Linked DNA regions of Homo sapiens. The protein of the gene in region 2 interacts with the protein of the main gene of each other region in a biochemical or structural test. Each region holds a gene or a part of one and is shown on either strand. Other genes may lie near its edges.

What was found. The genes of interacting proteins can lie anywhere in the genome.
Region 1: the proteins of CSDE1 (region 2) and ARHGAP5 form a complex in vitro, tested with the Homo sapiens proteins (one study listed by BioGRID).

Annotation. Positions count from the first base shown.
Region 1 is NC_000014.9:32,073,352-32,080,318, forward strand, and holds the start of ARHGAP5 (rho GTPase-activating protein 5), read left to right. Parts: upstream 1-3,952; 5' UTR 3,953-4,084; intron 4,085-6,967. UniProt on the Homo sapiens protein: GTPase-activating protein for Rho family members.
Region 2 is NC_000001.11:114,747,970-114,754,994, reverse strand, and holds part of CSDE1 (cold shock domain-containing protein E1), read left to right. Parts: intron 1-4,787; 5' UTR 4,788-5,174; intron 5,175-7,025. UniProt on the Homo sapiens protein: RNA-binding protein involved in translationally coupled mRNA turnover.

The sequences.
Region 1 (6,967 bases), on a different chromosome or scaffold from region 2:
AATGGCTACTGTGGATTGATACACCATTATTTGCCTAGCTGAAGGATTAATATCCCATCTTATCCTGCCTTCTTCCTCCCCTCAAGTAGGCCTAATTGTATGAGATAGAGAGAAAAAGAGAAGTCTAGGCAGGAGATGGGGATAAGGTAAAGAGTGGAAATACAGTTGGAAATTAAGCAAATATCTTACAAGTGTTTTGGCTATTTAGCTATTTACATCATTATTCTCCATCCTCTTTGTGTATTTTGTCTGTAATCAAGGTGATATTCTGACATAGGTTGTTCTCCAAAAGCCTGTCTTGTATCAGACAGGCTAAAGTATTGGTCAATTCTGTCATGAGTGGTAAGGCCCTTTATTTGGCTTTTCATATGTTCCTGATTGAGACTACAGAAGCCAAAGTTGTTATGATCAAAGATTTCCAGCAGGGGGTGTAGCTGCCTCTATAGGGTAAGTTCTTTTGAAGCCACAACATATGAAACATTTGAATATTGCAGTATTACCACTAATGGTAGAAGCTGGAATTATGATAACTTTTTTTATGACTGTCATGTCTTTTGATCTCAAAAAGACCATGCATATTAATACTTTATTAGGATGTGATGAAGAACTAGAGATTTATGAAGAAAATTTAAATTAAAAACCGAAAATGCCTGACAAATCTTATTCTAATTTTTTCAAAGTAAACGAGGAACAAAGAGTCCAGTTATTTTAATTATCCAGTACAGCAGAAGAGAGGCTTAACTTTTTTATTCTAGATAAGAAGAGTAGTTGATTTGAGAGGGCTTGTTAATATTTATTCCATTTCCATTTCTGTCCGATATTTGTGCGCGCGCATGTGTGTGTGTGTAAATAAGTTACCTATTTTCTTAAAAATTATCCTTTTGAGTAGGGAGGGTGGGTGTTTTAAAGCTTTTTCTCTGAAGTCTTGGCTCCTGATCAATTTTTAAAGATGCCATCTTACATATTTTTCCTCCTGCTCTTTGATGCCTTTTATTTATGGATATATAGGCATTATTAGCCACAGAATTGTGGCCCCCATTTCAGATTTTTATTGATACAGAAAACTCTATTTTTTGAGAAGAGCAAATTACATACAATAACTTATTTGTACTGGTAAACACCTTTAGACTATTAGTATTAATAAGAAACGAAGTCCTAAATTTCCAGGCTCCCTAAATCAAGATAAAGAACTGAAAATAATGTCGACTATGAAAATCATTGTTTGGAAATCGTGATCTTTTTTTTTTTTTTAACGTCTTCTGGTGTCTTCATTATAAGAAAATAAATGAGATTTCAAGTCTTCCCTGCCTCCAGTATCATGTCCTATAACTGAACATTACACCTTTTTAACGTTTTCTTTAGAAGCCCTGATTTATTTGGCTTTGGTTTATGTTGATACATGTCCATGATTATTAAAATTTCTGATTATTTAGGACATAATTTTTAAGGTATCTTTAGGGTGTACACTCTATAGTACTTAACATCTTATTCAGGTTATGACTTTGAACTGCATCATTATAACACTAAAAAGCAACCTTGGCTAACTTCAGTACCTTACGTAACATAAGAAATAAAGAATAACTTGAACTTAAAATACTTTTTATATGTTTACTTCGGGTATTCTTAAGGGCTTTCAGTACAAAGATAAAAACATGCGTTGGAATGCATCAACATTCCAACTTACATAAGTGGTGTAGATACCTATGGCATTAGTACCACATTTTGATGGTTGGACCACCCACCAAATTCCCTTCTCTCCTTTTTTACTTCTTTTTCTTTCTGTTTGCTTTCCTTGCAAGTTTCCTTCCGCATCCTTCTTTCCCACCTACAATTTGTAACTGAAAGAAAGAAGTAGCTACAGACCTTACCTAACCTACTCTTAACCTACTTGGTAGGTAGGGTTCAGATGCAAGGGAGTGGCTCGAATAAAGCATTTTAGTTATGCCTTTTAGAAATTAGGGAGCAAGAGATATATAGAAAAATTAGAAATGTCTCTTCTACCTTTATTAAGTCTACCTTTGAGAAATATGAAGGGCAGGAAGACGGAAAAACGAACAGAACTTCTGCTGGAATATTGTGACAAATTTACTGACAAATATTTTCTAATAGATTTTTACCAACAGGCAGTTTTTGTTTTCTTTACTGACAGACCGTAAATGTACTTCTGGTTGGCAGCAGCTGCATCATTATAACACAAAAGCAACCTTGGCTAACTTCAGTACCTTATGTAACATAAGAAATAAAGAATAACTTGAATTTAAAATACTTTTTATATGTTTACTAACATTAAACTATTTTCAATGCAGGAAATAAATATTTCCCCAAAGAGGAATCCCCCCTCAATTACTTTCTTTCAGACTTAACAAATTGGAGTAGATGTGGTTTTGCTCATTCTTTTATCTGCTGGCAACTATTTTAAGTCTCCTGTGCAAGGCAGATTCCGATGACCTCGGGAAAGTCACAGGACCTCAGTTTCTTCAATGGTAAAAGCAAAGGCAGTGGTTTCTACCGTCCTTTCTCACTGCACCATTCAGCGTCAGTGCCCTCATGAGAAACACACCCAAAGCCCAGTGTGCTCTACCCCAAAACTTGTGAAATTTCTAGAGTCTCAAAAAAGTGAATATGTTTAAGGCAGTATAATAAAAGCCAGGTGGACGACAGTTCCTAAAGTTAGGCTGGTAGTGGCGTGAACAGGGGTCTTTTGGGCCACCCTGAGACCCGCCCCACGGGGCTTCTCGATCCACGTCTTGGCTTCTCGCTCCACTTTCACAGAACGTACTGAATCAGGGGCCTGCATCCCCGTGCCGTGCCGAGCCGACGGAGAAATGGACTCCTCTTCTCGCTCCTGTGGAGTTTCGTCTTCTGGGTGAGTGTGGCACCGGGTCCTGGGCGGGTGATGTCTGTAGTTGGCGAGCGATCCTCAGCCAGAAAACTGGCTGCGCACACAGGCGCAGACACGCGAACATGTTCCTGCGAACGAGCTTGGGCGCATGTTTTCCTCCCTTGCTTTCTTTAATGCTCAGAGACCATAAGGGGATTTATCGAGAAGCATTCGGTGCCCATGCCCGGTTTGGAACCGCGAGCACAATATCTGGTTCCTTTGCAGTACGGTGGTTTGCTCTTGAGTTACGACCAGAAACCGGAACAGAAGGAAAGGGAGAAGCAGGGGAGGTTCGGGGACGACGGCGCTCCGGGCAGTAAGGCAGTAGCTTCCAAAGCGTGGAGGATGGGACTGAGGAGGAGCAGAATACGGAGAAAGAGGGAAGCTGAGGAAAAATACTCACGCCAATGGGTAAAAGGGAAAAGGTGAGAAGGAATGGAGTAGGGGAGGGAACCAATGGTGGGAGAGGCGGAGGAAGAAGGGGGAGGGGTAGAAGCCAATGGGGGAGTGGAGGGGAGGGAGAAGCAGAGGGGAGGAGGGAGCGGGGACGCGAGCGAGGACGCGGCCCCGCGCGCTCGTCCCCCTCCCTCCGACTGGATAGCTCGCGCCTTCCCAGGCTCCCGGGAGACGAGGGCAGGGGCGGGGCCGTGCCGGGTGCGCGGCGCGGGAGGCGTCGCGAGGTGAAGGGGCGGGGACGGGGGATTGTGGGGAGGGCAGCGCGGGTTCGCGCGCGCGCGCGCGTCCCGTCCAGGCTGCGCCGCCGCGCCGCCGCTCCGCCCCCGGTCGGGTGTGTGGCTGCGCGCGCCGGGAGAGATGCTGAGGTAAAGTTCGGGAGAGAGGGAGAGAAATCCGTCAGCGCGAGGGAGCCCGAGTGGCCGCCATTACTGAGCCCGGCGCGGCGGCGGGCGCTGGGGAAGGGGGGAGGGACGGGCCGCCGCTGGTGGCGGGGAGGGAGGGAGGGAGGGTGGGTGAGCTGGCTGCGGGAGCCGTGGGGCTCAGGGTTTCGGGGCGTGTGTGTCGGGGAGGGCGGGGGGAGGTGGCTGAAGGGACGCGCCGCTCGGTGAGCGCGCCGAGGAAGAGAGGCGAGCGGAGAGTGGAGGAGGAGGCGGCGGCGGCGGGAGCGGTCCCCAGGAATGTCGCTGCCGCCGCCACCGCCGGGGCCGCTGCCGTTGAGGAGGAGACGGAGGAGACCGACGTTGTTAGGTAGGACCTTGCGGACCCCGCTCCTCCAAGCCTGCCTGCCCCCTCCCGGACGGGGACCCTCCTGCGGCTAGCTGCCCCGCTCGGTCGCCGCTGCCGGTTGTAACCAGTTGAAGGGGCTGGGGCCCCGCGGCCGCCGAGGGGAGCCTGGCGCTGCGCTCGGTTTTCGCAGGCCGGGCGGGCAGCAGCTGCAGCGTTAGGGATACGTTCGGCGTGAAGGGCAGAGAGGCCGGGGGAGGGGGTGCTTTCTCCACAGGTGACGGGGCCAGGGTCGGCGGAGGCCTGATGCTGGCCGGGGATCGCCGGCCCCGCCAGGCGTCCGCTCTCGCCCGCCGCCTCACTTGCTCGAGTCTCGGGTGGTCCGTCGAGAGGGGAGGTGGCGGTGTCCGTTGGCCGGGTTGCTGCTGTTAACGAGTTCCACCTGGAAAGGGTACACGGGGCGGGTGCAGATTCGCGGAAACACAGTCTCGGTTGCAAACTTAAACGCCTTGTAGGGGGGATCGGCCCTTTCACTTTCCCTCATCTCCTCGACTCCTCCCTGGGTTCTCTTCACCAATTTTCCATCTGCTTTGAAGCTTGGAGTAAGATATGAGAAGTTGCACTGCGCATCCAGAGCCCAGAGTCCTATGGGCTGACTGCGACTGGGTTGAGGCTTTGATACTGAGTTTTCGCTAGAATAACCTCCAGATTCTTCCTCTCTTTCCACTAAAGAAAAGTATCGGGGTGGGGGTGGGGAGCCGCGCGGGAGCGCGCGCGCACTTATCCACACAGAAATACTCCCTCTCACCCTCCCTCTTCAGCGTTATTAGAAATGCAAGAGAGCTGGAGGCTCGGGGTGTAGCTGAGGTTGAAAGGTGCACGGAAGTAAGGGCAAACTGTTATTAGGCCGTTTAGTAAAATCCCGAAAAAGTTGTAGGGGAGACGCTTATACTTCTACCATGTGATAGAAATTCGGATTTGGCCATCGCTTAATAAATGGGAATTCAAATATTTTGAGATAGAGCAAGATAGGCATATAGATGGGTTTGTGCTTACGTTTTAAGTTTAAATTCTTATCGATCATTTATTTTTTCCTTTGTGATAGGCAGGAAACTGAATTTTTTTTTAAATGTTCAGGTGTAAAACAGCAAAATGCTTCGCTGTATTTACTAGTACTTGCTTATGTTGCTTTCTACAGGTAGGGGCGGGGGGCGAGTTTGTCAATTCCACTTAAATCCAGAACCAGTATTCAGTTAGAATGTTAGGTGGTGTTTATCCGCATGAAGGATCTCGTTCACTTCATGGGAGCTTGCTCTACATTTCCACTTAAAATGGTTCTCCTAACAAAAATTTCATCTAGATGCAGCGATTAGACATTTGGAATAATGTTTGGTTTAAAAATACGTTAATGAAACCTTTTGCTGTCAATTCTAGTTTATTTGTACTGTAATACGATAAAACGGTATTCTTATTCAGTGTTTGTAGATAAGTATTACTAACCGTCTAGGTAACCTACTAGATAGTTTCTTGAGTAAGATTTTGCTTTCATTTTAAATTCCTTTCTCATTTTTTGCTTTCATCTATCCTTTGTATACTAATTGACCTCCATTACCTTTATCTGTAGTACAAAGAGCGGTAAGTATGTGTCACCAAAAACTTGCAAAGACACTGGAGCAATTTATGACTAAACGCACTGGAGTGAAAGGCTGCGCATACCTATGCTTGTAACTTTCAAGAAATAGCACTATTGATCTAATTGACTTAAAGCAGAATCAGACGGTACAGATGATTAAATAACTATTGATTTGGTTGTCTTGTGTAGGCTGTGTTTTTAAACCTAGATCAACATGTCTTATTTTGCCATTCTTTGTACATTAATTATTAAGAGTACTGGGGAGTGAGGTGGGTTACACTTTGATGTAAGAATTGCGGCAGAATTCTGTTATCTTTATGAGTTTTGTAGTGTCCCTCCCCATTTAAACGACCTTAGCAATTTTTAAAATGTGTTGCAAAATTATTACCTTAATTCTGTCACAAGATACTTATCCTAAATGTTTTGAAAACCGTCTCCCCTTCTTATTTGTGTTTGAAAAGCATATTAGCACAGTCATTTTTTTGGAGAGTTATTTTGACCTTGAAAGTTAAGATTATTTAAGGAATGAATATTGTATTTGCATTCCTTTTTTGGATTTGAAGTAGCGATAATAAGTTTTCTAACTCACTTTTTTTAATTGAAGAAAAAGTTAGGTCTCATAAAGACTTTACTAAACTTTACCAACATTGGCAGGATGTAAGATGAGTGTTGGCCTTTAGTGGTCACTTCTTAAATATGAAATGGCATAATAGAGATTTTCTTGGTAGCTACAGAATAAGTTTTGTCGCAACTGTAGTTTCCATAGATACTATTTTAAGAACTATTTATTTGGGTTGTATGGTCCACAGTTTTTTCTTTGCATACCAAGAAGGTGTGTAGTAATATAATTGGCTGAAGAAGCATTGTACAGTGTTGTTTTAGTGATGTCTATGTTCCTAAAAGATACTTGTATTATATATTTAAAGTACACCAAGGGAATTTAATTTCTAAAAGACCTGTGAAGAAACATCAGTAGATTCATCATTCAGTAATTTGAGTAATCAGGCTCTTGTTTTAAGTGCAGGCTTTTGTCGATTATTTTATTGAAATAGGAAAAACCATATTAGAAATTAAGAAAAATGCTTCAATGCTAAGAATTTTAAGTATGAACTTTAATTGGTTTTCAAACTCTGTTCCTTGGATTCCTGTGGGTTTTTTTCCTAGATGCCTTGAGACTTCCTATGACAACCCACCCTCCCAAACCAGGACAGCTTCTATTTTCATGTATTAAGTGTATTGTATTTAAATATAAGAATATTTAACTTAATTAAATA
Region 2 (7,025 bases):
GAATTATAATTACACTGTATTTCTGTTGGAAACTGCTGGTCTGTGGTGTTTTCTGATGTGTCTAGAATGTTTCTTCAGCATCTTCCCACACTGCCATTTGTCCTGCTTAAAACTATTAGGTTTCTGGGTGTATATATAAGCAGTTAAGTGATAGATAATTTTAAATATCTCAGTAGCTGTTTAGATAATTAATCCAGCACAGTTGTTACTACACAGATACAAAAAGATAGTTGTGTCAGTTTGATTTTTTATTTTTACTCAACAGATGACTTAGGTTGGTTAATTATCTAGAGTTTATCGTTTACCTTAGATCCTAAAGTAAAAATGAATTAAGACCTATTAAGCACTTCAGTTATAAAATGTGGTGCTCAATGAAATGTCAGGCAATAGAGAAACTTTTCAGTCCTATGCTACCTATTTGGGTCTTTGTTTTTTCCTGCCTAAAAGAAGATACTGCCTAAAGGAAGTGGGTTAGGTGAGCAGACTTTTGTAGACTGGCTTAGCCTTTCATTAACTTTTCCCGAAGTGAGTGCTGCACATACTTTCAAAATAATAAACTAGGTAGTGTGATACATTTTAGATGGATTACTTACCACATAAATGTGTTAGTTTAACCTCTTCATTTAGTGCCGACTATGTCATGGCTTATGCTAGGCCTTTGAGGTAAAACAGCCGAGGAAGACATGAAATAAAACAGGTGGTGGCCAGGTGCAGTGGCTCACGCCTGTAATCCCAGCACTTTGGGGGGCTGAGGCAGGTGGGTCACTTGAGGTCAGGAGTTCGAGACCAGCCTGACCAACATGGTGAAACCCCATCTGTGCTAAAAATACAAAAATTAGCCAGCCAGGCCTGGTGGTACACGCCTGTAGTCCCAGCTACTGGGGAGGCTGAGGCAGGAGAATCGCTTGAACCCGGGAGGTGGAGATTGCAGTGATTAAGTAATAATACTATTTCCATGCTGAGCAAAGGGAAAAGGAGTTGATTACTTAGCACACAGTATGATTCTCAGATACACATTTAAATTGTTCCCTAGTGTTTTTATTGGTACCCTATGGTGGGTTTGTGGGGGCGATTGTTTTGAGTCAGCGTCTTACTCTGTCGCCCAGGCAAGAGTGCAGTGGCACAGTCATAGCTCACTGCAGCCTCAAACTCCTGGATTCAAGTGATCCTCCTGCCTCAGCTTCCCGAGTAGCTGGGACTACAGGTGCATGCCACCACACCCAGTGAATTTATTTTTTATTTCTAAAATTTTTTGTAGAGACAGCATCTCACCATGTTGCCCAGGCTGGTCTCAGACAATCCTCCCACCTTGGCCTGCCACAGTGCTGGGGATTACAAGCGAGAGCCACCACCCCAGCCCAATACCCAGTGTTTCATGCAACTTAAGTTTCAAGCTTTTAGGGGGATGGAGGAGATGCACTTGTGTTCCTAGGGTTAAGGCAAAAGAGGTGGTTAGTAGCACCAATTAATGTTAATCCGGGCATGAGTGGATAGCTATTTATATTAAACTGCCTGACCAATACCTTTAAGTTCTTCAGTAAGTGTTAATTTAATTGAAAAACATTTAGTTAACTATAGAAGCTGTGAAGATGTTAATTCGGCCAGTAAATTATTCATGACTGTTGGTGGGTTCGTTTGAGCTTTAATAGCTCCTAATAGACCTCATTAGTGCCTAAGAATGGCCCTGCAGTACTCCAGAGTTTCAGTTCCAGAAATCTCTTTTTTTGTGTTACTGAATCTTGGACTTGACAGTTCTTAATGTGATACGACAACCTGGAATGGGTTAATCCAGTTCAAGTGTTTCAAGATAACTTGTTTTCTCCATGTTGAGTTCTTTGGGTTCATTAATACACCTAAAGCATTAAGATAAAACCAATATACACAGTCTGTATTTTTTAAAGAAGAGATTATTTCTTGATTGGATAATTAAAACTATATAATTAAAGGTGGTATAACTGTTTACACTTGAATTGTGGCATAACTGTTTACACTTGAATTGTGGCGTCCTTTTGCTTATTAAGGATTAACTACCTTTTTCCTTTGGTTGTATATGGCAGCACTGGATTAGGTGCGAAAGGAGGCTGTGATAAAGAAATTTGAGTTTACCTCTCAGAAATTTGAAATAGAATTGGAGGAACAAGATACATAAAAACATGAAGTAAACAAAGTACAGAAATTGCTTGGTATCACTTGCTGCAAATTGCTTGGTGCAGGCAGTGGATGTTACTGCCCCATTCATTAGTAGGAATTAATGAATGAGTCTGCTGGAATGGTCAAGAAAGGCTTTTTTGTCACCTTGAAGATCACAACATAGTATTTTTTTGTGGGAAGACCCATATAAGCAAAGGTGGCTAGAATTCAGGAATCTCCCAAGAGTTGTGTTTAAGGATTAGGCGAGGTAATGGACTTCTGGTAGAACTGGAACACAGTAGAGAGTAAGGATGGAAGGTAGAATAGAGACACCTGGAATAGTAGTTCTTAATCCTGGCTGGAAGTCAGAAACACTTGGAGCAGGGGTTGGGGGGAGATAACAAGGCCTGGCACCTAACCTAGTGTAGTTAAATTTAGAATCTTTGTACGGGACTCAGGCTTTGATTTTGTTGGTTTTTGTTTGTTTGTTTGTTTAAGGTTGCTGGGGGTGGGTGGATAGCCAGGATTAAAAACTTCCCATCTAGAATGGTGGAAAAATAACTGAAGATGTTTGACAGGGGAGATGAGAAATGAAATTGGAGAGTTTTTGTTTTGTTTTGTTTTTTGAGACAAGGTTCTGATCTGTCTCCCAGGCTGTAGTGCTGTGTCACTATCTTGTTCTCTGCAGCCTTGACTTCCCAGTCCTAAGTAGCTGAGGCTCCAGGCGTATACCACCATGCCTGGCTAATTTTTTGTATTTTTAGTAGAGATGGGGTTTCTCCACGTTGCCCAGGCTGGTCTGGAGCTCCTGGGCTCAAGCAGACCTCCTGCCAAGGCCTCCCAAAGTGCTGGGATTACAGGCGTGAGCCAACTCACCTGGCCAAAATTCAAGTTTTTGATAGTCTGGTGGTGGTATGTGACAGAAAATGGAAAGTGTGCACACTGGAAGTTGGCGGATATATTAGACACCTGAGCTAAAATATGTCACTTAGTAGGATAAGAGATGAATACAAAAGATATAGCGAGGGAAATACTAACACAACTTGCAACATTGGGTATGGTGATGGAGAGGGGAAGAATCAAGATAGTTAAAGAAGTGGCCCTACCTCAAACCAGTTGTATTACTCTGAGTGGAGGCTGGGCATAGGTTTGTTTTTGTTTTTTTTTTTTTAAAGCTTCCCAAGTATTTGAGCACCATTACCCTGAGACATATATCTAGTCTGGGTAATAGGAGAATGATCTAAATAAAGTTGAAAGATCAGACAAGTGTATGTAACATTTGATATTTGAAGGAACATGGGATGTTAGAGAATAGAAAATGGCCAGATCAGCTGTTATTGAGTTTTTATTTTACATGTGAGGAAAGTGAAACTTAGAGAGATTAAATAACTTGTTCATGGTATTTACTAGTACCAGTGATTGCGATTAGGCTCTTCTGGTCTGAGCTATTTAATCAGCTCTGACCTCTCACCTGATAATCATTCTTCTGATGTTTTCAAATATCCATTTCTCAGCACGTACACCTTTTTCTTATCTCTGTAGAAATAATTTTCGTTAACACCATTTTGTAACTTTGGAGTCAGTGCAAAATTGTTGTTTATTTTATAGCTAATATAAAGCAGAAATGTGATTTTTACTGATAAATAAATTTTATTTCTCTTCTATAGACATTTCTCATCTATTTACTGCAGCAGTGCAAATGAGATTTCTGTTTGCTTACTAAGTCATCTCCTTTAGGATTTCAAGACTTAATACCACTTTCATCAAAAACTAAGGCACTGTTTCCTGTTACATCACGTTGAAATGCTTCATAATCGGGCTCCGCTACACCTGTCACACTACATATCCTATTTCACTTCAGCCCAGCTCTCTGTTCTAGCCAGGCTAGCCTGTTGATTTTCCTCTGAAACAACAAGCCACACATGTTGCCACAGGCATTCATGCAGAAGACTTCACTTGATGCTGGGCTTAGAAAATCATAGAATGCATGGTCGCTGCTCTGAAGAAAGAATTTAGTGGCATATTCTCGCTTGACTTATGTGCTGTTTCATGCCTAGAATACTCAGCTATTTTCTTTCTCCTAGAATTCTGCCTGATTTTCCAGGTTCACTTCAAATTCCACTTATTTAAAAGCCTTGGTTGCTTTGATGGACATGCAGTTGTGGATAAACAATAAATAATATTTCTAGATAGTCTGTGACATAATAGATACCTAGATACTAATTGAGCAAAATAATTTTTGGCATTTTTGTCCTATACTCTGTTTTTTTTTTCCATGTTTACATCTTGTCTTTTCAGCAAGATTGTCTATGCTCTCATGGCAGGGACTTCTTTTATGTTTTCCACAGAGCTAGATCCTTATAAAATACTTGCACTAAATTAAACATTATGCCATGTAACTGAGCTTATTTGGGGGAAGAGGTCAATAAAGACTATGGAATAATTTGAGGTCTTGGGTATGAGATACCAAAGGAGGTAGTTGCTAGTACTTGAGAGATTGCTCCAAATAACATCAGATGAGCATGCTTCCAAGTTTCCTGCATTACTTGCATGACCCATGATTCTAAGTTAATGAAATGAGTTTGTCCCTCTTCTCACCCACTGTCCCTGATTATTTTATGTATGTTATACTTAATGTCTTCATTTTTTACCTTTAGTATGAAGTGTAACAGAACAGACTTTACCACCTGAAACTGCTGCTTCAAGTTCAGATCAGGCAAGGAACAAACCTCGTAACAACTAACAAGACCAAAGAAGAGTACACTTAAGTTGAAGACACAACACTTGATCTGAAACAAGAAGTTTGTGCCTACTCAACAGCTTTGAAAGAGCACTTCCCAACGCTGCTAGTAGTCTTTGTTTTCTTCAGTGCTGTACTGTGAGATTGCCCGGTACAGCAGCAGTTGTATTCTTTATTAGCTTGGTAGATCATTTTCTCTCGCTCTTTTTTTTAATACTAGCAACTTTCATCCTTTGAAACGTGTGCTGAAAAAGAAGAATCAGCAAATACTACTGAAAGTGCAATATTTGAGTATCACTGCGAGGTAGGTTTGTAATTTCCTATTAAGAATCAGTTCCATAATTCTAGATTTCCTGATTATTTGGTCAAATATAAAATCTTTATTTGTTCTTTTCTAAAGGTATTCAGAAGACAGTTTTTCTATTCTCAACTAGTATGAAATATCAACACTATCTCTTGTTAGATAAGGACAGTATTTATGGTCAAACATTTTTCATACCAGATTATATTAATACATGCTGATCTCTCGACTTGCTGGTCTCTTAGAGAAGCTCCGTCTGTACTATTTAGAAGTTAGGATTTCAAATAAGAATGTGCATTGCAGTCTTTCTATGAGGGTCTGTGAAACTTTGGTGATATTTGCTACTGACGTCTGTTTCTTTCTCTCTACTGTCTTCAATGTTAGCTTCTTGAGGAAAGAACCTTACTTTATATCCATGCCTACATTTGCAGTGCATATTTGTGAACGGTATACAGTGCACATTTGTAAATGGTTGACATGCCTACTGTATTGTTAGGCATTGCTAGTGCTGAAATATAACGAATGAATAAGATACTAATGGACTTAATGATTTAGAACAATTTGTTACACAATATCACAATATAGGCTAAAAGATACTAATAAAATATTAAGAATATAACTGAAGCTGTTCCCTTGGAGGTAAGGAGGAGGGTAAAGAAAGCCTACAGAAAAGGGATATTTGAAGGTGAGTAGTACCTTGTTAAGAGGTAGAAGAGACATTGGTAGAGGTATAGAGGTAACAGAATTAGCAGATTCAGGGCTACGTGAAAGCACATGGTATATATTAAGTTGTTCATTATGAACAGAGTAGAGAATATAATTTTGCGGGAGAGTTATGAAAGGGAAGTTTGCTGGAGGCTTGGCCCAATGCATTTGTCTTTATTCCGTAGGAGAGCCATCAGATGTCTATAAGCAAGGGCTTAAGGGTTTTTCCCCCAAAAGTAAGATAGCTTTATTGCTTCACATTTTAAAGTAATATTCAGAAGTGTACCTTTAAAAGACAAATGGTGACACTTTTGAGGGAAAGGCTGAGGATGGGAAGACCTGTCAAAAGCAGTGGATCAAGTATAAGGAAGATAAAAGCTAAGGTGTAGGTAGAGAAAAAGGTAGGTGCTAGGTGTTCTGATGATTTAGAAGTGAGGACTTGGGGACCAATTGAATCTGAAGATAAATGTGGAGAGAATGGCTTTATCAAATCCAGTTGTGCAAACTAGAAACCTTCATTGTTCATAGGAATAGGGAAGTTAGAGTAGTAACTTACTGATATTAAAATATGTTATGGAAATCTATTGTGTTCATTAGATAGCAATCTGAAGTTGAAGGAAATACACTAGTATGGAATATTGAACAGTGGTTAACTTTGAGGGTAGGCTTATGAAGAGCAATTTTCCTTTTTAATCTTTAGTTTCCAGATTTTCTAAAGTTAGACATAAAGGAATTCAGAAAGGAGTCATCAGTGTATAGGTAATAAAAGGAAGAAGCACCAATGAAGAGAGCAAAGACATAGAAGTCAGGAAAAAGCACCAACGATAATTTCAGGAAGTCAATGGTAAACATTTTTTTAGATGCTACAGAGGTCAAATAAAATGAAGAATGAAAATAAGTCATTCAGTTACAAAAGCTTCACTGCTATTTCAAGAAGCGCTTAGGACTTTATTTCCAATTTATTGAAGGATTATGTAATAGTGTCAGTGACCTTGCTGTGCACTAGAATTATTCCTTAACAACTAAAAACTATAGTAAAATTATCTATGTCTCATAAACAGACACTGTTATTTAATTTTAAGGTAATTGTAGCATTTAGTTTTTCTATTTGTTTCTTCTTACCTTAGCTGATTTTTAAAAAATAATTTT